7 linked regions of the Homo sapiens genome follow. The protein of the gene in region 1 purifies or fractionates together with the protein of each later gene. This does not show direct contact. Each region holds a gene or a part of one and is shown on either strand. Other genes may lie near its edges.

What was found.
Region 2: the proteins of KCNE3 (region 1) and MLF1 purify together in Homo sapiens (co-immunoprecipitation; 2 studies listed by BioGRID and IntAct, with this or other methods). This does not show direct contact.
Region 3: the proteins of KCNE3 (region 1) and BMPR2 purify together in Homo sapiens (co-immunoprecipitation; 2 studies listed by BioGRID and IntAct, with this or other methods). This does not show direct contact.
Region 4: the proteins of KCNE3 (region 1) and STAM2 purify together in Homo sapiens (co-immunoprecipitation; 2 studies listed by BioGRID and IntAct, with this or other methods). This does not show direct contact.
Region 5: the proteins of KCNE3 (region 1) and NHSL3 purify together in Homo sapiens (co-immunoprecipitation; 2 studies listed by BioGRID and IntAct, with this or other methods). This does not show direct contact.
Region 6: the proteins of KCNE3 (region 1) and PRICKLE1 purify together in Homo sapiens (co-immunoprecipitation; 2 studies listed by BioGRID and IntAct, with this or other methods). This does not show direct contact.
Region 7: the proteins of KCNE3 (region 1) and MYOF purify together in Homo sapiens (co-immunoprecipitation; 2 studies listed by BioGRID and IntAct, with this or other methods). This does not show direct contact.

What each region holds. Positions count from the first base shown.
Region 1 is NC_000011.10:74,464,750-74,468,925, forward strand, and holds the start of KCNE3 (potassium voltage-gated channel subfamily E member 3), read right to left. Parts: upstream 2,801-4,176; 5' UTR 2,741-2,800; coding exon of another isoform or gene 2,649-2,740; intron 2,573-2,648; exon of another isoform or gene 1-2,572. UniProt on the Homo sapiens protein: Ancillary protein that functions as a regulatory subunit of the voltage-gated potassium (Kv) channel complex composed of pore-forming and potassium-conducting alpha subunits and of regulatory beta subunits.
Region 2 is NC_000003.12:158,574,194-158,577,693, reverse strand, and holds part of MLF1 (myeloid leukemia factor 1), read right to left. Parts: intron 1-3,500. UniProt on the Homo sapiens protein: Involved in lineage commitment of primary hemopoietic progenitors by restricting erythroid formation and enhancing myeloid formation.
Region 3 is NC_000002.12:202,564,788-202,568,249, forward strand, and holds the end of BMPR2 (bone morphogenetic protein receptor type-2 precursor), read left to right. Parts: 3' UTR 1-2,962; downstream 2,963-3,462. UniProt on the Homo sapiens protein: On ligand binding, forms a receptor complex consisting of two type II and two type I transmembrane serine/threonine kinases.
Region 4 is NC_000002.12:152,165,764-152,169,263, reverse strand, and holds part of STAM2 (signal transducing adapter molecule 2), read left to right. Parts: intron 1-3,500.
Region 5 is NC_000001.11:32,765,830-32,769,329, forward strand, and holds part of NHSL3 (NHS-like protein 3), read left to right. Parts: intron 1-1,957; coding exon 1,958-2,128; intron 2,129-2,232; coding exon 2,233-2,288; intron 2,289-2,822; coding exon 2,823-2,946; intron 2,947-3,500. UniProt on the Homo sapiens protein: Able to directly activate the TNF-NFkappaB signaling pathway.
Region 6 is NC_000012.12:42,471,247-42,474,746, reverse strand, and holds part of PRICKLE1 (prickle-like protein 1), read left to right. Parts: intron 1-2,182; 5' UTR 2,183-2,230; coding exon 2,231-2,362; intron 2,363-3,500. UniProt on the Homo sapiens protein: Involved in the planar cell polarity pathway that controls convergent extension during gastrulation and neural tube closure.
Region 7 is NC_000010.11:93,346,335-93,349,834, reverse strand, and holds part of MYOF (myoferlin), read left to right. Parts: coding exon 1-27; intron 28-2,052; coding exon 2,053-2,218; intron 2,219-3,500. UniProt on the Homo sapiens protein: Calcium/phospholipid-binding protein that plays a role in the plasmalemma repair mechanism of endothelial cells that permits rapid resealing of membranes disrupted by mechanical stress. Involved in endocytic recycling.

The sequences.
Region 1 (4,176 bases):
ACCACTGAAGCTCCTTGAAATGTGACTCTGACACTGGCCTCATCTCCCCACAGCTCTTTTCAGTGGCCTGCACCCATGACACTGAAGTACAGGCCACTCTCCAAATATTCCTTGCACTTGCACATCTCTTGCCTTTGCTCATGCTGTTTTCTTAAACAAGAATGCCCTTCCTCTTTTTACCTGCCTGGCAAACTCCTACTCATCCTTCAAGACCCAACTCCAATTCATCTCTGCAGACCTTCTCCTGGGACTCCTCCTTCCTCACTCCCTAGCCAGTTAGTCTCTCCCTCTTGTTTTTTCCCAAAAGTGCTTTGCACGAAGGCTTATTAGAGCACTATACTGTACTGAAACTCTGTGTGTGTGTGTGTGTGTGTGTATGTGTGTGTGTGTATGTGTATGTGTGTAACTGTGCGCTTTAAGGTAAGAGGGCAGGGTCCTGTGCCTCATACATTTCTTTATTTCCCAGCCCTGATACCTAGCAGGCATTCAAGAATAAATGAATCAATGCCTCTTCTCTAAGAGCATTCCCCCGCTCTGGCACACGCACATACATTCATGAAAACAGTTTACAATATTTAAAAAGCAACCTCCAGGGCAGGGCAAAACAGATTTCATTTGGTCTGGGGAAGGGATGGCTCAAAGAAAAGAAGCCATCTCAGTCAGGTGGGGTGAGTCAGAGGAGGAAGAATTCTAAGCCTTCTTTGGAAGCCCAGATGCTCCCTGCACCTGGACCCCATTCAATCCAAAGGGCAAACATTCTTGGCCTCAAAACACCAGCAATGGCTTTGCAACCCTCTTCCCTGTGTACCTACCCAGGGTGTGGCCACATACACCCACCCACTGCACACACACACACAGTCCAACTCCCCAGTCCCTCAGCCTGTGATCTTGCCGTTCAAGTGTTCCTTTCATGATTCTAATCTTGGCTGTATGCTTGGCTCTGTGTCCTTGAGCACTGCATTTACTTCCTCTGAACCTCATCTATAAGATGGGGATAATGATCCCTGCCCTGCCTACCACACATGAGAACTAGAGGAGACAAGAGATGGGAATGTTTTAGAAATTGCAAACATACAAGATAATTATCAGGCAGGCTGGTCACACTGTTTTCCTTTTCTGTCTCCACATCTTTCCTTTCCCCCCATATTACCAAGAACAACCATCTCTGTGTCTCCTTTCCCACTCCAGGTCTCCTAGCCTCAGAAGCAGCCAGGAGGTTCTTATTATTCTTCTTGATTCCCAGGAACCTCACCTTCTCCAGAAGCCTTCCTGTTTCCTACCCTCTATGATCATTCCCGCAGTCCCTTATCATTGAGGGGTACCATTCTGTAGTCCTGTAGCTGGTGGAGAACACATCAGAGGGGGAATCAGGAGACCTGGGTTCCTGCCCCTACTAGGCCAACACGTCTAGCCGTGCGTTTTGGTTAAGTAACTTTATCACTCTAAGTCTATATCCCTCTAGGCCTCATTTTCCTCATCAGTAAGATGGAGTTTCTTGTCTTGCTTCCCTCTTAGAAGGTATTTTGAGCACTCGCACATTAAGTTTATGGATGTGCTTTGAGACGTATAGACTGAGTGAGGGATGGAGAAGGTGATGGTTATCATCTCAAGGAGTCAAGAAAATCTGAAAGCAGCTTCTAGGCCCCCAGCATGGGTCTTCCTCCATCAGGAACAGACAAAGTGGACGGATGCAAGGAAATAAGGAGGAGCTCACACGTTTACAACATGCCTTTGTAGGTGAAGTGGAGAGAGCCCTGGGCTAGGACTGAGGAAACTTGGGTTCTAATTCTGTTTGGTCTCTGTTGTAACCTTAGGTAAATCATCTCCCCTGGGGCATCAGTTTCCCTATATGCAAATTAGTGGAGAGGATTTTAGGAGGGATACTCTGGTGGGCTTTCACGCAAGAACTAAACTCATTTATTTTCGAGATAAGAGACTCTGAGGTCCAATCCCCCTTTCCCCTTCTGTCCCATGGGGTATGCAGGCAACAGGAGCAGGAGGCCCGTTTTACAAATGGTGGCCCAGGAAAAGCGAGCACAAGGCGCAGAGCTGAGGGATGACTGCCCGGGTTTACACAGCCTGTAAACTAGAACTCAAGTCTCCCGACTCCCAGCCTCGACCTATGTTACTGGCAGCAGAAGATGCTTTTGGGAGTCACCAGGTTTCCCGGGACTAGGTCAGACAGGGTGAAGGACACAGTGAGGTGTAGAGGGAATGGGCAAGTCAGCTCCGCAGAGCCGGTGGCTCCAGCCAAATGAGACTGTGCTGGGTCCTGAAATGTCGTTTCTGCGTGTGCACTGGCTGCCAGCTGCAAGTGTTCGCTTGCACGTCTGTGGGTGTGGAGGAACTTTTCTTGTGGCCGTCTTGAGGGCTGGGAATAACGGCGCAAGTCCCCACGGTTTCCAGACGGGGCGCGCAGAGCCCAGCTCCCTACTCCCACATGCTGCTCCACGATCACTGCGCTCGGGAGGATCGGGGAGGATCCGGGAGGACTAGCTTGGTATTTGCAGCGCCCACCCCTCCCCCACTCCCCCTCGGTTCCACAGTCTCACGGAGAGCGCGCCGTGGCCCTTGGAAGGGAGGCGGGAAGACCCCTCATTTCCACCCCAGGCCGCAGCTCAGCCTTCCCAGCTGGGTGGGTGCCTTACCTGCCTCTCAGCAAGGCTCCGGGGCGCCCGTTTGCTCGCTGGACACGGCGCCCTCTGACCGAGGGTGGCCCAAGCGCTGCGACCCTGTGCATTCCACCAGCCCCGTTCCACTCCGCGGGTGCCCAGCACCGCCCAGCGCGCTCTCTGGCTCTGGGCTCCCACCCGCGCTCGGCTCCCTTTTCCCTCCCCCGGGCGTCCCCTCCCCCTGCCCCGCCCGGGCCCCAGCACACCCACTTCTCCCCGGGCTGGCCTGGAGTGCCTCCGCCCAGCTCCTTGGCCTCCCCCGGCTGTGGGCTCCGACCCTTCCGTCCCCTGCAGCGCCTGCTTCCTGGACCAGAGACCGAAAGCCTCTCGCTCCGCTGGGCCTCAGCAAGCCCAGCATGAGGCCGATCTCCAGGAGTCGGTTTTGCTCCAGTGTGGCTGTGTGGTGGTGGGCGAGTCGCTGCCCCTCACTGGGCCTTGGCCTGGCTGTAAAGTTGGTACAGTTCCTCCATGCATTCTTCACAGGCTTATGGTTGAGGTCAGATGAGACCTTTGAGTCCAAAGTATTAAAACCAAAGGGTCAACAGCAAAATAATATGATTCTTACACAAACTCTTTTCCACACAGGACGCAGAGGCCCAGTTGGAGAAGGGATTTGCCCAGGTAGCAGAGCCCAGACCCAAAATCCACTACACACCCCTCTGTCTCTGAGTAGCACCAGCAAATGTTTCCTCCACCAAGCCTCAAAAGTTCGTGACAGTGCCTGACCAACTTGTGTTCAGCCGCACCTTACTCATCTCTGTCCCAGAACAGTTTATTTTCCCACCACCATGCCCTCACTCAAACTGTTGTTTCCTTGCTGGTGACATTGCAGGCTTCAGAGAACTGGGGCAGCCGGGGCAGCTGAGGAATAAGAGCCAGGAGGCTAGTGGCAGAGGAAGGGACAGTTGCAGAGAATTTCTCCGGGGGACCCTGTGGGGTGCCCTTTTACCAGCTCACTGCCTCAGAATAATTAATAACAGCCTCAGGCCAGCTCTTTCACTCCCTTGCAAAGGTCTGCTCCAGGATATCTGAAGCACATACTCTCAATTACAGAATCCCAGAATATATCTAAGAAGTGCTATCGTTTTAAAAAGACCTACTACAAGGTGGGTATATTGTATATTGTATACAATATACAAGGTGGGTATATTGTACCCACCTTGTTTTGACCCTACTATTCCTTTTTCTCAGTCTGGAGATCACCTCTCAGAAAAGTCATCCTAATCACCTAAGCATGCAATCTCAGTTTCCTTCCTTCCTTCCTTTCTTTCTTCCTTCCTTCCTTCCTTCCTTCCTTCCTTCCTTCCTTTAGACAGGATCTCACTGTGTCACCCAGGCTGGAGTGCAGTGGAGTGATTATGGCTCACAGCAGCCTTGAACTCCTGGGCTCAGGTGATCCTCCTCCCTTAACCTCCTGAGTAACTGGGACACACCACTATGTCTGGCTAATTTTTGTATTTTATAGAAATTGGGTTACTCCATGTTGCCCAGGCTGATCTCGAAC
Region 2 (3,500 bases), on another chromosome or scaffold:
AAGAATGCCCCAAATGAATAGTATACCTTAGAAATCCTTTCAGCACAAGGCTTACAGTGTCTCATTCTTTCAAATATGATCTTATAATTTGCAAAGTTCATTTATAAGAAATTTATATATTAAAATATTCCTAAGAACAATTATACTAGGTAATTTCACAGTAGGTATTCAGGGTCTTAGAATAAAGTGGGACCTTGAAAATAAGTAACTTAAATTTTAGCTGAGTATTCTCAAGCTACTTTTATCAACTGTTTAGAATGAGAGGTATATGTGGCAGAATATTAACTAGAGCCAAGCTATGACAATTTGGCAGAGACTCTACCTCAGACTGTACGTCTAAACAAGTATTTAAGTAGTAACCTTGAATACTGTTTCCAAAAGCTTAACAAGGTGGTTTTATTTCCTTCAATGAGAATGTTTTCCATCAATAAAAAAGTTAACCCACATCTTGTACATAGAATACATTCACTTTGAACTCCATCAGTGGATAGGACAAAGCAATGTCCTTTAATAAATCCAACTACTTCCAAGTATAAAATAAATACAAATTTGTAAAAATTTTTAAAATAGAGATTATACATATAAGGAGATAGAAGAAGTAACATCCTGTGAATATATGCAGTACTTTAACCAAATACTGGTCATCAGATATATGATGCTCATATGGAGAGCTGAGAGGCTTAAAGAAGAGACAACAATAATTTATGATTAAAAATTAAGGTTGGCTGGGTGCGGTGGCTCATGCCTGTATCCCAGCACTTTAGGAGGCTGAGGCCAGCATATCACGAGATCAGGAGTTCGAGACCAGTTTGGCCAACATAGTGAAACCCGGTATCTACTAAAAATACAAAAAATCAGCCGGGTGTGGTGGTGTGCGCCTGTAATCCCAGCTACTCAGGAGGCTGAGGCAGGAGAATCACTTGAACCTGGGAGGCAGAGGTTGCAGTGAGGCGAGATCACACCACTGCACTCCAGCCTGGGCAACAGTGCCAGACTCCGTCTCAAAAAAAAAAAAAAAAAAATTAAGGTTGACAGGTTTGCCAGCCTGCTTCTGAGCTTTCTATCTCCAATAGCTGGTAAGTGGTAACATAGTTATTATTCTTTGTAGACTTGCTCGATCAGAATTACATTTTTGTAGCTCAGAAGATTCACAGTTCCTGTTTCGTATCAAATAGAAAATTCTGGGTCGTACTAAATATTTATAAACTTTCATACTACATAATCGATGTTTTTTAGGGTACAGGATGCCAAAACCATTTAACCTCAAAATCCTCTTGTCTATACATATGTACTTAACAATATGCATATTGTTAGCAAATACAGATGTGAGAGAAAGATAGTATTCTTGAGAGAACTGCATGCCAGGAAGTGCTAGCTTTTAACCTTTGTGTTTTTAATCAAGTAACAGATATTGTTTAAGAAGGTATATCTGAATATACTGTAATGTAAATTTTCAATGAAATAACTTCAGCCCTGAGACATAATGAGATACCAAAGTTTAAAAATCCCAAGTATGTAATAAAACACCAAATTTTAAAATATAACTTTTAACATTTCCTTTTACTTTTCTGAAGAAACATTTAAGATGCACTGTTATAATAAGGTAAACATTGAAACTGAATATATTTGAATTCAAAACTACAGATTTTAATTACTTTTTACTTAAATATTTTAAGCAATTAACAATTTAACCACAGCACCTTATCAGCATCGTAGTATCTAGTAATTCTATTTTTATATCAAAGAAGTATACATTTTTGTCCATTTTTGAATAATTAGTAAATCAGTAGCGTTTGCTTATATTGAATAACCTTGATTGTGAACAATATAAGCAACTCTAATGGACTATTTAGAAAATCGTAATGTTCTAATTAGAAAATACCAGTATCAACAATGTTATTTGTTGAATGCAAATGATAATTACTTTCAGCAATCAACTAAATACCAGATTGACTACAAGAAAGAGAATAAAGGACACCAACTCACCATTAAACAACATTTACTGACTCTATGACCCACCCACCACAATGTTAGCAACAGGGATAATATTTATATAAAAGAGAGTGGGCATGAGCTATGTGTTTCACATCTCTATGTTCCTAAGGTCAGTGGATGATTCATTAAGGAGTTTGTCACCTTTATGAATTCTTTATGTTTAACTTAAGAAATGGATACTCATTTTGTTTGGGGGTTGAGGTAAAACGGGTGGGTCAAATAGATTACCCGAAATAAACATAAACTCATATTCTTTTTCTCCCTTATCCCCAAAAGTGTGTTAAATATAATTCATTGTGGAGAAAAGAAATTGTTAAGTGTGAATCAATTTTATAAAATTAACTGTAATATGGTGGTAATGAAAGATGGTAGTCTGTAAGCAGAGTTCTGGCCACTATTTTGTATATTTAAAAGGTCTATGCAAAAGCTTTGTGATGAATAAAGGAGATTAGGCTTAAAAAAAGTTAACTGCAACAATTTTACCTTCAATTTTTATGATATGGCTCCTTGCATTTGAAAAAGGCTATAGATAGTGATAACTGAAAGAGTAACTGATGGTCCTTTTCACCCTAAGCACAGAGGAAGAGTTCTTCTGTATGCTTACTATTTGTAGTCTGTTACTATTTCTGACCCTGACTCTTGAATTCATTGCCTCTGCTCAGAATCACTCAAGAGTTTAAATTACACTTCTGCTAGACATTTTAAAGAACATATTATACTCATTACACATTCACAGTTAAGGATGGAATCCTTAACAATGAAGGATATAAAACAACTTTTGGTATAATCAAGGATATAATACAACTCGAAAATTGTCTATCATAATCTTCTTAGCTGTTACCAATTGTATGATGTCATATTTACATATGAATGACTTCAACACCTCAATAATCTATGGATTTGTAGTACTGTGATTCTCTTGAAAGCCAGAGCTTATGTAATACAAAATAATAAAATTATGGATTTTACAAAATAATATTCTCTGGCTAAATATTCTTTTTTTTTTTTTTTTTTGAGACAGTGTTTCACTCTTGTTGCCCAGGTTGGAGTGCAATGGCGCAATCTCGGCTCACTGCAACCTCCACCTCCTGGGTTCAAGTGATTCTCCTGTCTCAGCCTCCCAAGTAGTTGGGAGTATAGGTGTGTGTCACCATGCCTGGCTAATTTTGTATTTTTTTTTTTTTTTTTTTTTTAGTACAGATGGGGTTTCACCATGTTGGTCAGGCTGGTCTCCAACTCCTGACCTCTGGTGATCCACCCACCTCGGCCTCCCAAAGTGCTGGAATTACAAGCGTGAGCCACCAAGCCTCGCCTCTGGCTTTCAAAAGAGAGAATCACAATAATACAAAAATTTAAACCTGTTAAAATAACACTGTCCATATCCCAACAGCTCCTAAACACGTTAACTAAAATGGCATAATAAATTTGCCTGAGTTCATGTATGCCTTAATAAATAATCTTCAGAAAAAAATTTTAATCATTTTATTTTTCTATATTAACCATTT
Region 3 (3,462 bases), on another chromosome or scaffold:
CTGTAATCCCAGCACTTTGGGAGGCCGAGACGGTGGATCACGAGGTCAGGGGACTGAGATCATCCTGGCTAACACGATGAAACCTCATCTCTACTAAAAATACAAATAATTAGCCAGGCATGGTGGCACGCGCCTGTAGTCCCAGCTACTCGGGAGGCAGAGACAGGAGAATCGTTTGCACCCGGGAGGCGGAGGTTGTTGCAGTGAGCCGAGATCGCGCCAATGCACTCCAGCCTGGGCTACAGAGTGAGACTCCATCTCAAAAAAAAACAAAAAAAATCACCTCATAGTTTATGTCTGACTTACTCCAAACCTCAGTTATCTGATTTGTAGTCTGTGTCAGGAAAGTTTTCTTCATATCTATTCTGTCTCCCTCCTCTTTGATTTTAAATTTTTTTCTTTTACCCAGTAGGACAAAAAAGAGCAGTTGGTCATCATCCCCAATATTCTTAGTCTTCAGTATGCTTCAGGCCTCTCAATGAACACTTAAGTCTCAATTCTTCAGACAAAATTGCTTAAGCTCTTCTCCTCAGTCCTATTTTAATGACTTTATATTTAAGAATATAGAATTATATTTTCTTTTATATTCAAATTCATTACTCCAGTTAAGTAATAGTTTGATAGTTTGATAGAATCGAGAGTTAAGATGTTTCTATTTGAAAGTGGATTCAACCATCAGACCACCAGCAAATCGGCACTTAATTTTTGTGTTATCTAACATTTTCTATTGTGGAATTTTATGATTTTATATTCTCATTAGTTATAACTAAAAAGCCATGCACACAGAATTGTATATCATTTTGCCATTAAAATTTTTTAACATATTGCAGCAAGCTTAGTTTTATGATTGAGCCACAACCTTTTACATATTTTTTGTATGAAATATTAAACACTAAATGCAAGATTAACTTTCAAAAGCAAACCCTACATTAATCAGGTATTATCTATGGACATTTTTGTAGACCACTTTTGAAATACTTATTATTTTGCAACATAGACTGGACTATACAACTTTCATTTAACTTTTAGGTGACTGATTTAAGTTGAGTGTGCATATAGAGAAAAACCTAGAAATTTATCTCATGGCAGATACATTTGAAAGTACTTCAGAAGAATTTATGCTGTATATTAAAACTAGGCTCAAAATAAATCTATCGTATCTTTAAAAGTCCAATTCTGTTATTACTGTGATGTTTGTAGTGTTACTATTAAACATTGTGAACATACACATTTTTAAAACAACTTGAAACCCATTTTAAAATCTGGGTAAGAGAGAAGGAATCTTCAGAACAAAATCACATCATTAGGGTGTCCAGTTTATGATTGAATTTTTAAGCAAATTACTGTATTTGAAACTACAACTTGATTTGGTTTTCAGTTTTAAAAGGCAACATGTGGGTTTTATCCATTTTATTTATACCTTTAGATTTCAGAAACATCTTCATGTTTTAGATGCATTCTACAGACATCATGTTACTTAAAAACTCAGGGCCCCTTTCATCCCTTTGTACACTGAAAAAGTTCAATTGTTAGCAAGTAAGCAATTAGATCCAGTTGAATATTTAAAGTGTTTGTTGCACAGTTCATTTAATGTTTCATCTTATTTGACTTTTTCACATAGATATAATATCAGATTTCATTAATTATAAAAAGTTGCCCAGTTCTGTAATTACTGAACAGAGGGAATGACTCAACTAATTGGCTACATGTTGCAACAAATTTAGGCCTTTAGAGTTGAAGCACTGACTTAAAACGACTTACATTTCTGTTCTTTGGTCAAATGACCATACATGATATGGGACAAATTGTTTCATTTTGTTTGTTTTTTAATAAGGGAACTTGGTAAAGTAGTTCCTGTCAGATAGGATTTTCTCAAGAGACAATTTAACGTTATAAAGCCTTCTAAAAGTGAACTAAATATTTTATAACTTTAGTAATAGCTTGGATGGTTTTGAGAAAATAACCTGTATTTATCACATTGTCAAACAGAATTTTTCTTTGAATCAGACAAGTTCAAGCTCTAAATTGATGTGCTATATACTTAAAATCCTAGGAAGTTATCTGTAACCAGTCTCTTGTCTCAGGCTCTTCACCTTGTTACCAATCCTCGTAAGTATGTAAAGGAAACATATTTTTAAAGAAGCTTAACAGTAAGAAAAAATTACTAAAAGATGCAATTCAAAGATAGGTCCCAGTTTAACACTGAATTGCTTGACTTCTGTGGCTTTTCTTTTTCTGGCCACATTTATTTATTTAAGCAATTTTTGTATGCCTTGTTATTTCATTTCCATAGAGATTATATTGTATCAGTGTTTATGTAAGCTGGAATCATCCTCAGTTTTTTGCTGATAATTTTTCAAATAAAGATACATGGATAATTGTAAAATACACTAACTCTTAGGGTGTTGTAGTAGCTGAAACATGGAGATGCGTAGCTGTCATGCTTTTTCTGAATGGACAGGAGAAACATAAGCTACGGAGTATTCACTTCTGAGGATGCTTTTCCGGAAAAAGAAAGGCTAGAAAATACTCGCACTTCCTCAGAACCCTCTTTCTTGTTAACGGGTATCTTTTGTTGGTGTGTTTTGCTCTTACATTACAGATAGACTATCATATATGACTTTATGAATAATTTCAGTTATTTTGCTTTTGTATAAGCTGTCTGAAGCCTTGCTATGCTGTATAAGTTGTGTTTGATGGATCAGTGTGAGTATAAAATAAAGCAAATCACTTTTCTTTTGTATTATCTATGGATGCCACTATGAAAGCTGACATTAAGCCACTAAAGAGTTTTCTATGAATAAGTGTAAGTAAATGCTTTGATATATATAAACCTAAATAAAAAGATTGTATTGATACAGAGACATTGGAGAAGGAGATTTTAAGGCAGTTCTTTAGGTTTAAAAAGGCTTGCTGTAAAATGGTGCGTTATTCCGTTTATTAAAGATCATATTAATGACAATAGTAATTGTGTTTTTTTATTTTAAGAGGTCACCAGAAATTGTTAGTATGATAATTAGGGAGTTTGCACTAGAATAGTAAATGTTCTATCTAATATGACTTTCATAACTCAGTATGATACATCAAAAAATAAAAAATAAAAAAAAATAAATAGGCCGGGCGTGGTGGCTCACGCCTGTAATCCCAGCACTTTGGGAGGCCGAGGTGGGTGGATCACGAGGTCAGGAGATCGAGACCATCCTGGCTAGCACGGTGAAACCCCGTCTCTACTAAAAATACAAAAAATTAGCCGGGCGCGGTGGCGGGCGCCTGTAGTCCCAGCTACTCGGGAGGCTGAGGCAGGAGAATGGCGTGAACCCGGGAGGCGGAGCTTGCAGTGAGCCGAGATCGCGCCACTGCACTCCAGCCTGGGCGACAGAGCGAGACTACGTCTCAAAAAAAAAAAAAACTAAATTTAGTATAATAGTTGCTATTTTCTGACCATGTATTATATGCCAGGCA
Region 4 (3,500 bases), on another chromosome or scaffold:
CAACACCAAAAAATAAAACAAAATTGATTTTTAGAGTTCCAGATACATTTCTTACTAATCTTTAGTTGGGTATGTATGTTACAAATCTGTATTCTAGTTCTGTTTGTTTCTGCTGTCTTTTATTGTAAAGAAAATGTGGGTTTTCACTTAGTGATATTTGTCATTCTCCCTTAATTTTATTTTTCTTAAGAAAGGCTTCAGGGCTGAGTGTGGTGGCTCACACCTGTAGTAAAGAAAAGAAACCCTTCTCCACCCTGAGGTTATACAGATATTTTCATATTTTCTTCTGCAAGTTTTACTAAACTTTTGATTTTCACATTTAGGTCTTTGATCCACCAGGAATTAATTTTTGTATAAGGTCTGCGGAGGAATTGAATTGGATAACCAGTTGACAATAGACAATAATCAATTGTCTAATCACTGTGGATTGAATTGTCTGTTTTTTCCCCACTGTTTTATAATTGTCTTAGCTATTTTGGGCATTTCAAATGGATTATATGACAGATTGGTTAAAATCATTATACAAGGGAATTTCTTGTAGGTTTTTAGGATGTAAGAGAAAAGACATTATAATTTTATTTTTGTTTCACATCAGCTGATATTGATGGTTTAAAATATATTTTTATTCCTTAATAACATTTAATGATAAGCTTATGTATAATTTGTAAGTAAGTCAAGAAGAGAATGATTTTCTGCCAGTGAATATACAACATAATACTATAGCAGTGTAGTTAGGTGGATGTGTCTCTAGCATGGCTTTTGTTTAAATAAAGGACCTCAGAGGTGTTGCGTGTAATAGGCCTTGTGGCTGGGCGCGGTGGCTCATGCCTATAATCCCAGCACTTTGGGAGGTCGAGGTGGGCGGATTACAAGGTCAGGAGTTCGAGACCAGCCTGACCAACATGGTGACACCCCATCTTTACTAAAAATACAAAAATTAGCCGGACATGTGGTGCATGCCTGTAGTCCCAGCTACTCGGGAGGCTGAGGCAGGAGAATCACTTGAACCCGGGAGGCAGAGGTTGCAGTGAGCCAAGATCGCGCCACTGCACTCCAGCCCGGACGACAGAGCGAGACTCCATCTCAAAAGAAAAAAAAAATAGGCCTTGTATATAAGTATGTAGGGTAGGATATCAAACTCTGGTTACTTGACAAGTGATGGTTCTAACCACCTATTACCCAGGTATCAAAATGAAACTTAAGGATATATCATTTCTTTATCTCTTGTTATTTTTTTCCTCCTTGGTTGTCTATTGTCCTTTAATCTGACCACTTTTCTTCTCCCCCTTCCTTGATTTTTCATTTTGTCTTAAGTTAAAAAGCTTTTATTTTATTTTATTTTTTCTTCTTTTTTGAGACACAGCCTCACTCAGTCGCCCAGGCTGAAGTGCAGTGGTACAATCTCAGCTCACTGCAGCCTCTGTCTCCTGGGTTCAAGCAATTCTCCTACCTCAGCCTCCTGAGTAGCTGGGATTACAGGCACCCACCACCATGCCTGGCTAATTTTTAATTATTTATTTATTTATTTTTTTCTAGAAATGAGGTTTCACCATGTTGTCCAGGCTGGTCTTGGACTCCTGACCTCAAGTGATTCACCTGCCTCGGCCTCCCAAAGTGCTGGGATTATAGGAGTGAGCCACCATGCCTGGCCTAAGTTACAAAGTCTTTAAAAGTGTTTTTGCTTACAGTCTTTTTCCTGTTATAAAAATATCAGCTAATTGGCAATATTTGTCCAACACCATGGGTGAGAAGGATATTAGTTCCTGAGGCATTTTGGTATTGTTGAAACATTCTTTTCCCTCATCCTTTGTTTTTTAGGATTAAGTTTCACATTGACTTATTGGCATCTGCTATCTTTTTTGGTGTAGTAAGTGTTGCTCCCAGCTTTTAGACTTCCTTTAGCGTTATTTTCTTAATGGGTCTGTGGCTGCTATGCTTAAAGGACAAGCACCTCTCTGTCCCTATAGCACCTTGTGGAACATTTACAGTTCTTCACCATGGAGACCTGTTATGGCGATCTCTGTTGCATTCAGGGAGGCCTTTCTTTAGTTTCCTCCAGTTAAGAAATGTTGAAAATGAAGTGTCTTGTGAAGTAGTTCCAGTTCTTACTGACTTTTAATGCAAGCTCAGAACTGTGTTTAATCTCATATTTAAAAAAAGCATGAAGGGAAATGATGAAGGATTTAAAAAATTTTATTATGTACAGTCTCCCTCATATTTAGTGTAATTTTTAAATGATAGCAGTTGGATGAAAAATCTGTTATTCAGTGAAATTGTTATTGTATCTGAAAACTCGCAAACTATTTTCTTGGTCGGTAAACGTACCCTTAGTAAGCACTTGCTTATTTTCATTTGCAATATGAGAATTGTAGTGACTCAGAATTTTACTTCTCATTTGTACTAAAAGTTTTTTTTATTCTTATCTGGAGCAGCAGCTTTTACTTTCATTTGTCATGGGATGAATTATCTTAACCTTCTCTTCTAAAAAAAGATCTGCTTAAAGAAATCTAGCATGTGCAGTGTTTTGGTTTGTCCCCAGCAGTACTAAGTCCTTGAGGTGGAGGGTTGAAGGGGAAGAACTTTTTTTTTTTCAAACATTAATACCTTATTAGGTTCTCTTAAGTTACCTGATAATGAATAAACCTTTATATTTAATGGAGAGATTGAACCTAAGAAGGTCATTGTGGCAGATATCTGGGAATGGCCATTGTCCCCTGAAAATTATTGACATTCTGAAGTGGCCACCTGCTTATAGGTGTTAAGAATAGGCTGTGTATATATGTATGTAGGGTAGGATATCAAACTCTGGTTACTTGACAACTATCAGTTCTAACCATCTATCACCCAGATATCAAAATAAAACTTAAGGATATATCATTTCTTTATCTCTTGTTATTTTTTTCCTCCTTGGTTGTTTTTTGTCTCTGAATCTGACCACTCCTCTTCTTCCCCTGCCTTGATTTTTCATTTTGTCATATTACTCCAGTTTTATGTCAGAAATTTGTCACTACATGATGATGTAGTCTTAAAATTTTTAGCTATTCTAGTGGGTATGTCATTGTGGGCTTTGTCGTTGTTGTTGTTGTTTTTGAGACAGAGCCTTGCTCTGCCCCCCAGCCTGGAATGCAGTGGCGTGATCTGGGCTCACTGCACCCTCCACCTCCCAGGTTCAATCTGGGACTACAGATGTGCACCACCATGCCTGGCTAGTTTTTGTATTTTCAGTAGAGACAGAGTTTCGCTGTGTTGGCCAGGCTGGTCTGCAACTCCTGGCCTTATGTAATCCGCCCGCCTTGACCTCCCGCAGTGCTGGAGTTACAGGCATAAGCCACTGTGCCCGGCCTTCATTGTAGTTTTAATGTGCATTTACTTGATAACTCTTGATTTTGGGCACGTTTAAATATATTTATTTGCTAAATGAATGTTCTCTTTTTCAAAGTACTACTTGTTTAAATATTTTGTCCATTTTTCTTTTCACTTAATTTTCACAACTCTTTTAA
Region 5 (3,500 bases), on another chromosome or scaffold:
GAGTGGGTGTGGCTTGGGGGGAGGGGAGGGATGCTCGATGCCTCCCTTTCCCAGACCCTTATGTAGAATGAGGAATCAAGGCTGGGCAAAAGTAATGGGGTGGGGCTGGGGGCTGATAATGAGGCCAGAATCTCCCATCCGGCTGTGCTTTTGTCCAGCCGCTTTGTTGCTGCCTTTGTCTGGGCCCTGCTTGTGGGTTGGGAGGATGGATCCAGGTGTCTCTGACCTTGAAGCCTGCAGCCCTCCCGTGAGACTTGCCTCCCTGCCGGGGTACCCACACTTTACTGGGTACAGCCTCCCAGTCAAGATGTACTAGCCTTTCCTAGTGTGCCGGGGAGGATGGGACGTGGGCGGCCCAGAAGAGAGGAGAGTAGTACCACTGGAAGTTGGGAAGCCTGCTCAGTGAAATCCTGTTTAGAGGCCTGGGAATGGAGAAGTTTTGGAGGGAGGGGCCTGTTCCTCCTTCCTTCTCCTAGGAATTGGGCTTTCAGACCTGGATTAAGACATAGGGACAAGAGTTTATTGGACTTTTGAGGGTTGGGGGCCCCTACTCTGAGTGTGATCCGGGAGTCCCCTCTGGGAACCTGGAGTTGAGTCCAGGGTCAGTCTGACTCCTACTGCTGGGTGACCTTAGGCAAGGCCTTGCCCCTTTGAACCGTTTCCCCACTTGTAAAATCTGGGGATCTCGGGCACTGGTCTGGTTGGATCTGTTGGGGGCCTCCTAGCTCTGACCTGTGGGATTCCTGCAGACTCCCTAGGGCAGGAGCTCTGGCTGTTGACGAATGGGCTGAGGGAGGAGGAAAGGCAGGTTTCTGAACTGAAGACCCTGCTCCTGGAGCATGGCCCTTTAAAGGGCTTGTTTTGTTCCCGTCCCTTTATAAGGTGTTACCAAGGTCACATGACCCTTCCAGCGCTTTTGCTTATGTTGTGGGTTTCATTTAAAGGGGGGGCTGGGGCTGCAAAGTGCTGACACAGCCCCCCATCCCCAGGATTAGATGGCCAGCCCCTCCACAGGCGGGGCTTGTAACAGGATCCTTTGTAATGGATCCCTGGCTCCTCTGCAACAGGGGCCAGGGCCAGGGCCAGGGCCTCCAGGAGAGGGGGATACCTGGGACTATTTCCCCAAGAGAGACTGGAGCTCCCTTGGGCGGGTGGAGGGGCCTGGGTCTTTCTTCTCCCCTCCCCTGCCCATCCTTCCACTAAGGGGCAGCCACATGGGTGAGTAGGGGACCCAGGAGGCTATCTCCTTGGTCTGCATCCCCCCTAGGATTTTCTGGGAATATGGTTGTAACTCATGCCAGCTGTCTCTCCTTCCTGATTTCCCGTGATATCTTCTTCCTGGACCTGGTTCAAGTGGTGGCATGAAAAGAGTGGTTTGTTTTCCTGTGAAGTGGGGTTTTGGGTATGGAGGCGAGAGCAATGTATTTACTATGGGCTATGTGTATACTCGGGATGTTTTTTGTGGGGCTCTGAGTGACGTGTGAGTACATAGTCGTGTGTATACTTGGTTACTGTTTGTGTATATACAGAGCAGGGACTGTGGGTGTTGTGTGTTTACGTGCGGGCTGGGTGTGCTTGGTGTGTGTACCTATGTGTGTTTATACTCGGATGCCCTTTGTTTATATACATGAATGACATCTGTGAGTGCTGTGTACGTACACAGTAGACCTGTGTACCTGTGTGCCCTGTGTGTGGGGCCTTATATGGGGCCCTTTGTGTGGTGTGGGTACTCAGATTTATGTACACTTGGGTGTAGTTTGTGTATATGGGGGCTGTGTGTGTTGAGTGTTTACTCCAGAACTGTGGGTTATGTGTCCAGACTGGGGAAGGGGGCATTGCTTGTATATGCAATGGCCGTGTGCAGTCTGGGGACCATGACTGCCCTTGCCGTGAGACCTGTGCCCCTGCAGGGCCCAGATGCCTTTACCTCATTTCCCTTCCTCCTCCCTCCTACTAGGCTCTGCCAAGGCTGAGAATGACAAACATCTAAGTGTAGGGCCTGGCCAGGGGCCAGGGTCTGCAGTGGATGAGCACCAGGACAACGTCTTCTTTCCCAGTGGGCGACCCCCCCACCTGGAAGAGCTGCACACTCAGGCCCAGGAGGGGCTCCGCTCCCTACAACACCAAGGTAAGCTTCCTCTCCACTCCCCTCCCCTCTCCTCCCTCCAGTGCTGCACTGTCAGCTGTCAAGGTCAGGGGCCTAACCCAACAGACCCTTCTGGTGTCTTCCAGAGAAACAGAAACTGAACAAGGGTGGCTGGGACCATGGAGACACCCAGAGTATCCAGGTGAGCCCTGCCTCCAGCTCAGTCCTGACTCTTCTCTACCTGCTTGACCCCTGGCAAGGATGTCTTGGAACATTTCTGGGTCTCAGTTTCTTTATCACAAAGGGCTACACTAAATGAACCCTGAGGGCTAGTTCAGGGTTGCTCAGTGCTAGGTGATGCTGGAGGGGATCTGTGACTCAAAAGTTCGAGTGGGAGGCTGGGCGAGGTGGCTTACACCTGTAACCCCAGCACTTTGGGACGCTGAGGTGGGCGGATCACTTGAGGTCAGGATTTTGAGACCAGCCTGGCCAAAGTGGTGAAACCCTGTCTCTACTAGAAATACAAAAATTAGCCAGGCATGGTGGGAGGGTACCTATAATCCCAGCTGCTTGAGAGGCTGAGGCAGGATAATCGCTTGAACTTGGGAGGCGGAGGTTGTGGTGAGCCAAGATTTCGCTACTGCACTCCAGCCTGAGCTGGATTTGTCTCAAAAAAAAGTTCCAATGGGGAGCCTTGAGGAGACAGCCCCACCCAGATCTCCTTCTACCCTGATAGTCCTCCCGGACGGGGCCGGATGAAGACAACATCTCCTTCTGCAGTCAGACCACATCCTACGTGGCTGAGAGCTCCACAGCAGAGGACGCGCTCTCCATCCGCTCGGAGATGATCCAGCGCAAAGGTGGATTCATGGGCAGGGGAGAGGGACAGTGGGCTCCATTGGGTCCCAGCATCTGTAGCTTCTTTTCCTCCTTATCCAGTGTTTCACCAGGCTCTCTGATTCAATGAATTCGGGAAACACAGTACCCTGTGTCCTCTTGCACATTCGTGATACACACTAACTATAAAGCAGTTAAGAGTTAGAAAATCTTGGCGGCCGGGTGCGGTGGCTCACGCCTGTAATCCCAGCACTTTGGGAGGTCGAGGTGGGCGGGTCACGAGGTCAGGAGATCGAGACCATCCTGGCTAACACGGTGAATGAAACCCCGTCTCTACTAAAAATACAAAAAATTAGCCTTGCCTGATGGCGGGTGCCTGTAGTCCCAGCTACTTGGGAGGCTGAGGCAGGAGAATGGCGTGAACCCAGGAGGTGGAGCTTGCAGTGAGCCGAGATTGCACCACTGCACTCCAGCCTGGTCGACAGTGTGAGACTCCATCTCAAAAAAAAAATAAAAAAAGAGTTAGAAAATCTTAACTGTTGGAAGCCTGGTGTAACTAACTAGTGCCAGCTGTGTG
Region 6 (3,500 bases), on another chromosome or scaffold:
TTCTCCTGGTAGGAGTTTTAGAGTTACTAATTAAATTCTTAACCTCTGGTTCTCTTCCTTTGACATGTGGGAGTGGTTTTTTCAAAATATCCAAGACATTTTCTGACTCATTAACACATCCTTTTTTATTGAGGAGTCAGAGGAATACGCCTATGTTTAGAAAGCCTTTCCTTAGTCAAGACATGAATGAGTCGCACCTGTGTGAAATGATGCCTTGTTTAAAAGGTCATAACCTCCCAATGGTAGTGTAGGAAATGAGGTCATCTTCACTTCTTGTTCAGGGTGAATGAAAGTTAAATTTATTAGTTGGAATAATATATGTGTGGCATTGCTCCTACTGCTAATAAAGATTGTAGCTATGAGGTGCTTGCCCTTCATTTATGAACTGTTACAATGTTAATTTTCTCAATGTCCTATCATTTATAAAAGAAAAACCATAAATTTTAATCAAGTTTTATTTTATTTTATTTTTTTCGAGACGGAGTCTCGCTCTGTCGCCCAGGCTGGAGTCCAGGGGTGCAATCTCAGCTCACTGCAACCTCCGCCTCCCGGTTTCAAGCGATTCTCCTGCCTCAGCCTCCCGAGTAGCTGGGATTACAGGCACCCACCACCACGCCTGGCTAATTTTTGTGTTTTTAGTAGAGACGGGGTTTCACCATGTTGGCCAGGCTGAGCTCAAACTCCTGACCTTGTGATCCATCTGCCTCAGCCTCCCAAAGTGCTGGGATTACAGGTGTGAGCTACCACGCCCGGCCAATAATCAAAGGTTTTAATAGGTAGTATTTTCCAACACTCAGTATTTAGAGTTGAATTGAGATAGTCACTGAAAAATGACTTAGTCTCAGGCTGAAAGTGTATGGCTTTTCACTGCCTTTTACACTTGTTTAAGCAAATGAGAACTTTTTTTTTTTTTTTGACATCCTTCCTGAGATGGAAGAATGTTTATTGAGGCAGAAGAATTTTTGGAAGTCTGACATGTCAGTGTGTATGTGTGACTAGACTCTGGCTTTTAGCCATATGACCTTGGACAAGTCTCTTGACTTTCCTGAATCTTGTTTTCTCTAAAATCATTGGGTCGGGATAATTATCTATAATTTTCTTTCTTTACATCATTTTTTTGTGGGTGAAAGGCCCAGGTATAAAAAAGCTCCATCTCTCCATCTGGTTCTGAAAGTTCTGCTATTATTATTTTTTTCTTTGTGCCCTGGGATGAGGGATGATTTTAATAATCAGAAGATACAAAGAACATAAATGGTGATAGCAAAGTTCCTGGGTTCTAGGGCAGGGAATGTTGTCTTGACACTTTTATAGCCCTTCATCCAAGGAGGCTTTTTATTCAGAGGAGGATTTACATCTTACTCTGCCCATAGCAGGCTGATGACATTTCACACATACTAGGCACTGACTGCATAACTTTTCAGCGAATGCCTGCTTATGATGCAATTAAACATTAACAGTCACCAAGCTGGATTTTATTTTCACATAGTACTGTATTCAGTGACTGTTTGTTGAAGGAACTCACTGATGAATGTCTGACTGACTTTAGCCCTTAGTAAAGGCTTGAGGATTTAATGTGCAGTATAAGGATTTAATTGTGCTATTTCTATTTTGTGTGTAAACTCAGTTTAGTGTCTTACAAAACATAATTAGAAATCTGAAACCTAAGCAGTTTGGCTGAGTGGACCCACTCTCAGGAGGCAGCACTGCCTCAGTTGGAAAAATTGCTTAGGAAATACAGGGGTGCCGAGTGGGGTCTTGAGCCATTTTTCCTGGGGCATAGTAGTGGGCAAGGCAGGTAGCCTGACCCCGACACTTCTTTCTACAACTTACAGTATGTCACAAGGATTTGTGGGCAAGTTAGAAAGTCAACACATCAACTTTCTTGAGAACTTTTCTAAGGAATCGACTGTAGAGAGGCACCTTTTAAAGGCTCCTGGAAATAAACTAGCTTTGGTGGCATGTTCTGAAATTCTGAGCTGGCAAAGAGACTACTACCAAATTATATAGCTCTAAATTTTAAATTTCAGGGGGCCTGGGGCCTGGGGGTGGTGACAGTAGTAATTTGGTTACTTTCTCTGGGCCCAGCTGTCTGTTAACAGCATTCAATAAAAGCTCTGGGTCGGGGGTAAGAGAAATGCATTCAGGTTTTAGATGTCTTTGTTTTTTCTTATATTGTTCACAGCAGCCATTGTTTGATGTCCTGTGACTGAGAAACCAGGCTTTAAACTTTATGCCTTTGGAGATGGAGCCCAAGATGAGCAAACTGGCCTTTGGCTGTCAGAGAAGTTCCACATCAGATGATGACTCTGGCTGTGCATTGGAGGAGTACGCCTGGGTCCCCCCGGGCCTGAGACCAGAGCAGGTAGGAACTTCATCATCCTATATTTACTCTTTGTTTTTCAGTGTGAGTTCAGACTTTAGAACATTATTTTGTAAATGGATAGAACATCACTGAGATGCTGGAATACCACCCTCCTCAGTCCTTATTCTTCTTTGTATGGCTTTGAAGTTTTACTTTTGAAGGTCATATTTAGTTTCTCAATGGAAGTTTCCAATCTCGTCGTACCCATGGTTCCAGAAGCCTCATAAGGATCCCATTTTTGCTCTAATGAATGAAATCCAGAGTACTACATATGCATTGGTTATGTGTATTTCGGATGAATCCCTCTTGAGAGTGAGAGGAATTTCCCTTTTAAAAAACTTCTGTGACAACAAAAAGGCAATAAAAGAAAAGAGAAAAGTTTCCATGCCAGTTCTCAGCAATGCTTTTGCTTTGGAAGCGAGATAGTGAGCTATCAGAAACCCTCTGAAGTGTTACTGCTTAGACGTTTGACCTTTGATAACTTTGCATATAAAAGAGCCTGTCACTTACACCACAGGGATTGGAAAAAAAATTAAAGAGTTAATTTTATGCTTTGTTTGTATTGTTATTTTAGGGAAGATGAGAACATTCCATATGCCTATTTAATTTTCCCAATATCTTTACAATGATTAACTTGTTGAAAATCACTGGCGATATTATTAAAAGAGCAGAGGCATCATTTGAAAATAAAGTTGACAGTGGGGTATGTGGTTGCTTTGCTTCTGATGTTAGGGTTCTGTTTCCTGTAGGGTGGGACGTTTTATGAGAATAGGGTATCCTTATTTATCCATGGCATAGCACAGTACCTGGCACGCATGTAGCTGATATTCAGTAAGTGTTTATAACTGTAAAAAGCTTCTAGAGCTGATAGAATGGGGAGAGGGTGGAGTGCTGGTGAAGCAGTTAGAAAAGCAATATTTTGACAAACTACTTAGAGAGAATCCCTTCTTACAACTTAGAGTGGGTAGGTTTTGTGTGGTACTAAGGTATTGAAGTAGACAGGCCCTAAATTCCTGTCTCCTGTCTTTTTTTTCTTTTATTCCTTCTCAGCTCTGCAGTATCCTTTGCAGTACTCATTAAGGGATGTTCCTTTAAAGACATCAGAAAAACAAACAAGCAGAAATTAAGTTTTCCTTTC
Region 7 (3,500 bases), on another chromosome or scaffold:
CCAAGTTCTGTTCTCTTCATGAAAGTGGTACAGTATCGATTCTCTGTGATCACCCATGCGCGTTGAAATATGAAAGTATGTGCCTCACACACACACACACAAACACAGAGTTTATTTCCAAAACCTGACAAATAGAAAAACCCTGCCTTATATTCAGCTTGTCAGTGACTTTTTCCCCTTAAATTCTCCCACTGTAGTGATGATTTCTTAAAGCTTCAAAATAACTCCAGTGGCACAGAAATATCTGTGAGCAATACTTACTTATTTCTCCAGTAAACTTTCCATCTATTCAGCTATCTATTACAAGCTGTTGGTCAACCCCATGAAGGCAGAATATTAACCCCCAGTCATGCATGGACCAGATATACCCCCTACAACTGTGCATGGACCAGAACCTTCTGGATAAGGACTGGCTGTCTGGGGAAGGGGCAGCTGTGGGGGAAGGTATATGGGGTGATAGGGCCATGACCTTGGCAGCCCATAACTGTGCCCCACCTCCAGGTGCCCCTGGGATGGCACCTTCTTTGGTCCATTGAGGCTACCCTCTGGTTGTTAAAGATGTGAGAGCATCAGATCCAGTTCACAGCTCTCCATCACAGACCCCATAATACCTGGGGTGAGAAGAGGCCACCCAGTCTTTCCATTTTTAAAGCAGTTAATTTCTTAACTTTAAAAAAAAAATCTTTCTTTTTTACTCTATTATATAAATAGGTGACATAAAGACAGTTTCTTACCTTGAAGTGTTGGAAGACCTAGAACCTTCCTTTCCCCACCCCAGTCATTTTCCTGACCTTGATGTCTCCAATACAGTGCTCTTGAACTCTAGGGTCACGTGCTTTAACCTCTTATTTTACATTACAGAGGAGGAAACTGAGGCCTAAAGAGGGGAAATGATTTATCCAGTGTCATAGTGTTAGGCCACACCTTCTATACCACAGTGACTATGTCCTAACTAGTGACAGCTGCAGTGTAGGGCTTGGTGCATTCTTACTTGGTACACCTCGTCTTTAATCCTGCGGGGTGAACATTTTCACCTCTCTTATGCCCACCTTGGGGAAAAGCAAGAGGTAACAGATTTACACAAGGGGATGTCGCTAGCAAGTGAGTGGCCAGAGTTTGCACATAGGTCCTTACAACCCCAATGCCCATGCTCCCCTCCCTATCATGCGACAGACGGCGAGCCACCGGGATGCTGCCAGCCAGGGTCCCAAAGTGGTTGTCCCTGGGCCACTCCACCTATCCTTGTCTACTCCCCACACCTCCCTCACCTTCCAAGTTCTAGTCTGGAATCTAGCCTTGGTCAGCAGAGATGAGAAAAACCACTCAGGTGACCCCAGTTTCTATTCCTGTGTCAAGCCAGAGATAGAAATTCACCTGAACCACATACCAAATGGGCCCCTAGGTCAGCTCATGATTCCCCAATCAGGCATTGTCACCAAAGCCACCAAATTCCATGAGAGGGAGCCAGGGGGAGTTGAGGAGAAAGTAGCAATCCATTTTTACACTGAATTTCCAGGGCAAAGAGACTCTCAGCCACAGTTATTTCCCTTAGAAGTTCAGTTTTGTCTTGACCATTTCTAAAGTCTGCTCAGAACTTGGCTAGTAGATGACCAAAGCCCTGGGCTAGTTAGCCTTGTGCATGTCCCCTCCCAGGAAGCAGAGCACAGGGAAGAGTATAGGGCAGTGACTGAGAGTAAAGAGCATGGGTCAGTGATTCCACACTTACAGGACACAGCATGGGTCAGGTACTATTCTAAGTACTCTTCACATAGAGTAATTCAACAATGTTACTATTACTCATGAAATAATGGGGGCATGGAAGGGTTAGCCAGGTAGTTCATGGTGGCAGTGCCAGGATTTGACCCAGGCAGTCTGGCTGACAGCTCACGCTCTTAAGCACGGAGCTCCTTGCCTGGCACATGAGTAACTGAACTATTGCGAGTCCTCTGGGCTGTGTGGCAGAGAGAATCTGGACTGGTCCATCTGGGGAATTTTTCTCAAAGCTGCCCTCGTCTGGTCTTGAGAAATGAAACCTACCTTTGTGACCCCCAGTTCTTGCCCAAGGAGGAATTGTACATGCCCCCACTGGTGATCAAGGTCATCGACCACAGGCAGTTTGGGCGGAAGCCTGTCGTCGGCCAGTGCACCATCGAGCGCCTGGACCGCTTTCGCTGTGACCCTTATGCAGGGAAAGAGGACATCGTCCCACAGCTCAAAGGTAACATGCAAGGCTGTGCATAAGTCTGGGGGCTTTTCTTTTTTTTTTTTTTTTTTTTGAGACGGAGTCTCGCTCTGTCGCCCAGGCCGGACTGCGGACTGCAGTGGCGCAATCTCGGCTCACTGCAAGCTCCGCTTCCCGGGTTCACGCCATTCTCCTGCCTCAGCCTCCCGAGTAGCTGGGACTACAGGCGCCCGCCACCGCGCCCGGCTAATTTTTTGTATTTTTAGTAGAGACGGGGTTTCACCTTGTTAGCCAGGATGGTCTCGATCTCCTGACCTCATGATCCACCCGCCTCGGCCTCCCAAAGTGCTGGGATTACAGGCGTGAGCCACCGCGCCCGGCCGTCTGGGGACTTTTCATGCATGGCTCTGATTTACTCTTTACAAACCTACTCAAGGTAAGTCCTGGATTCATTGTCTACATTTTACGGATGAGCAAACTGCGTGAGTTGCGGTGGGTTATGGCACTTTCCTAAGGTTCTATCATTCGTAAGTGGCAGAGCTGGGCTGGAATCTCGGCCTTGTTTTAGGGGTGGGTGGCATGCTCGAGGGATTCCTCTCTGAAGCGTCCTGCTCCTGGGTGAATGTAAGACTTCTTTTGAGGAAGTGTTAAGTGCTCATGAATGTTCCCTATTCACCTTTCAACAAGCAGCTTGCAAAGCAGGGAGAGCTGTTCCCACATCAGTGATGGGGATGAAGTCATTTCCTCTGCCTTTCACTGAATGGTTAGGAAGCACTCACTGACTGCCACGTGCTGTTCTAGATATCTGGGGACAGTGGGGACCAAGAAAGGCATGTTCCCCTCTCACAAAGCAAAAGTCCAGCAGGGAAGGCAAACGAGGAAGTGTGCAGTTGCAGTCCAGTGTGATAAATATCTTGATGGGGAAAACAGGAAGCTCCCTGACCCCATGAACACTGAGAGAGGAGGAGATTTTATTTCAGATTGCTTTCCACCTGTTGGCCTACCTCATTATCACATATAATTAATATGTAAATGATAGAGCAGGGCATAATACTTACTTTAGATTTCCATAATAAATAATAGCTAGTGATACAGCATTTTGCAATTACCCATTCAATAGTTACTTGCTTTTAGCTTACCATGTGCTAGGGACTGTGTTAGGGGCTGGGGGCTACATTGCATCAGTGCAAGAGATCCCAGGGCCCCTGGCCTCATAAATTAGACACCGTGGGAGGGCTGGAACAGCCTCATTCGGCTGATCCTTGGTGGCTTCAAGACTGAAGCAGATGTCTTCTATTTAAGCAGCTGTGTCACTAAC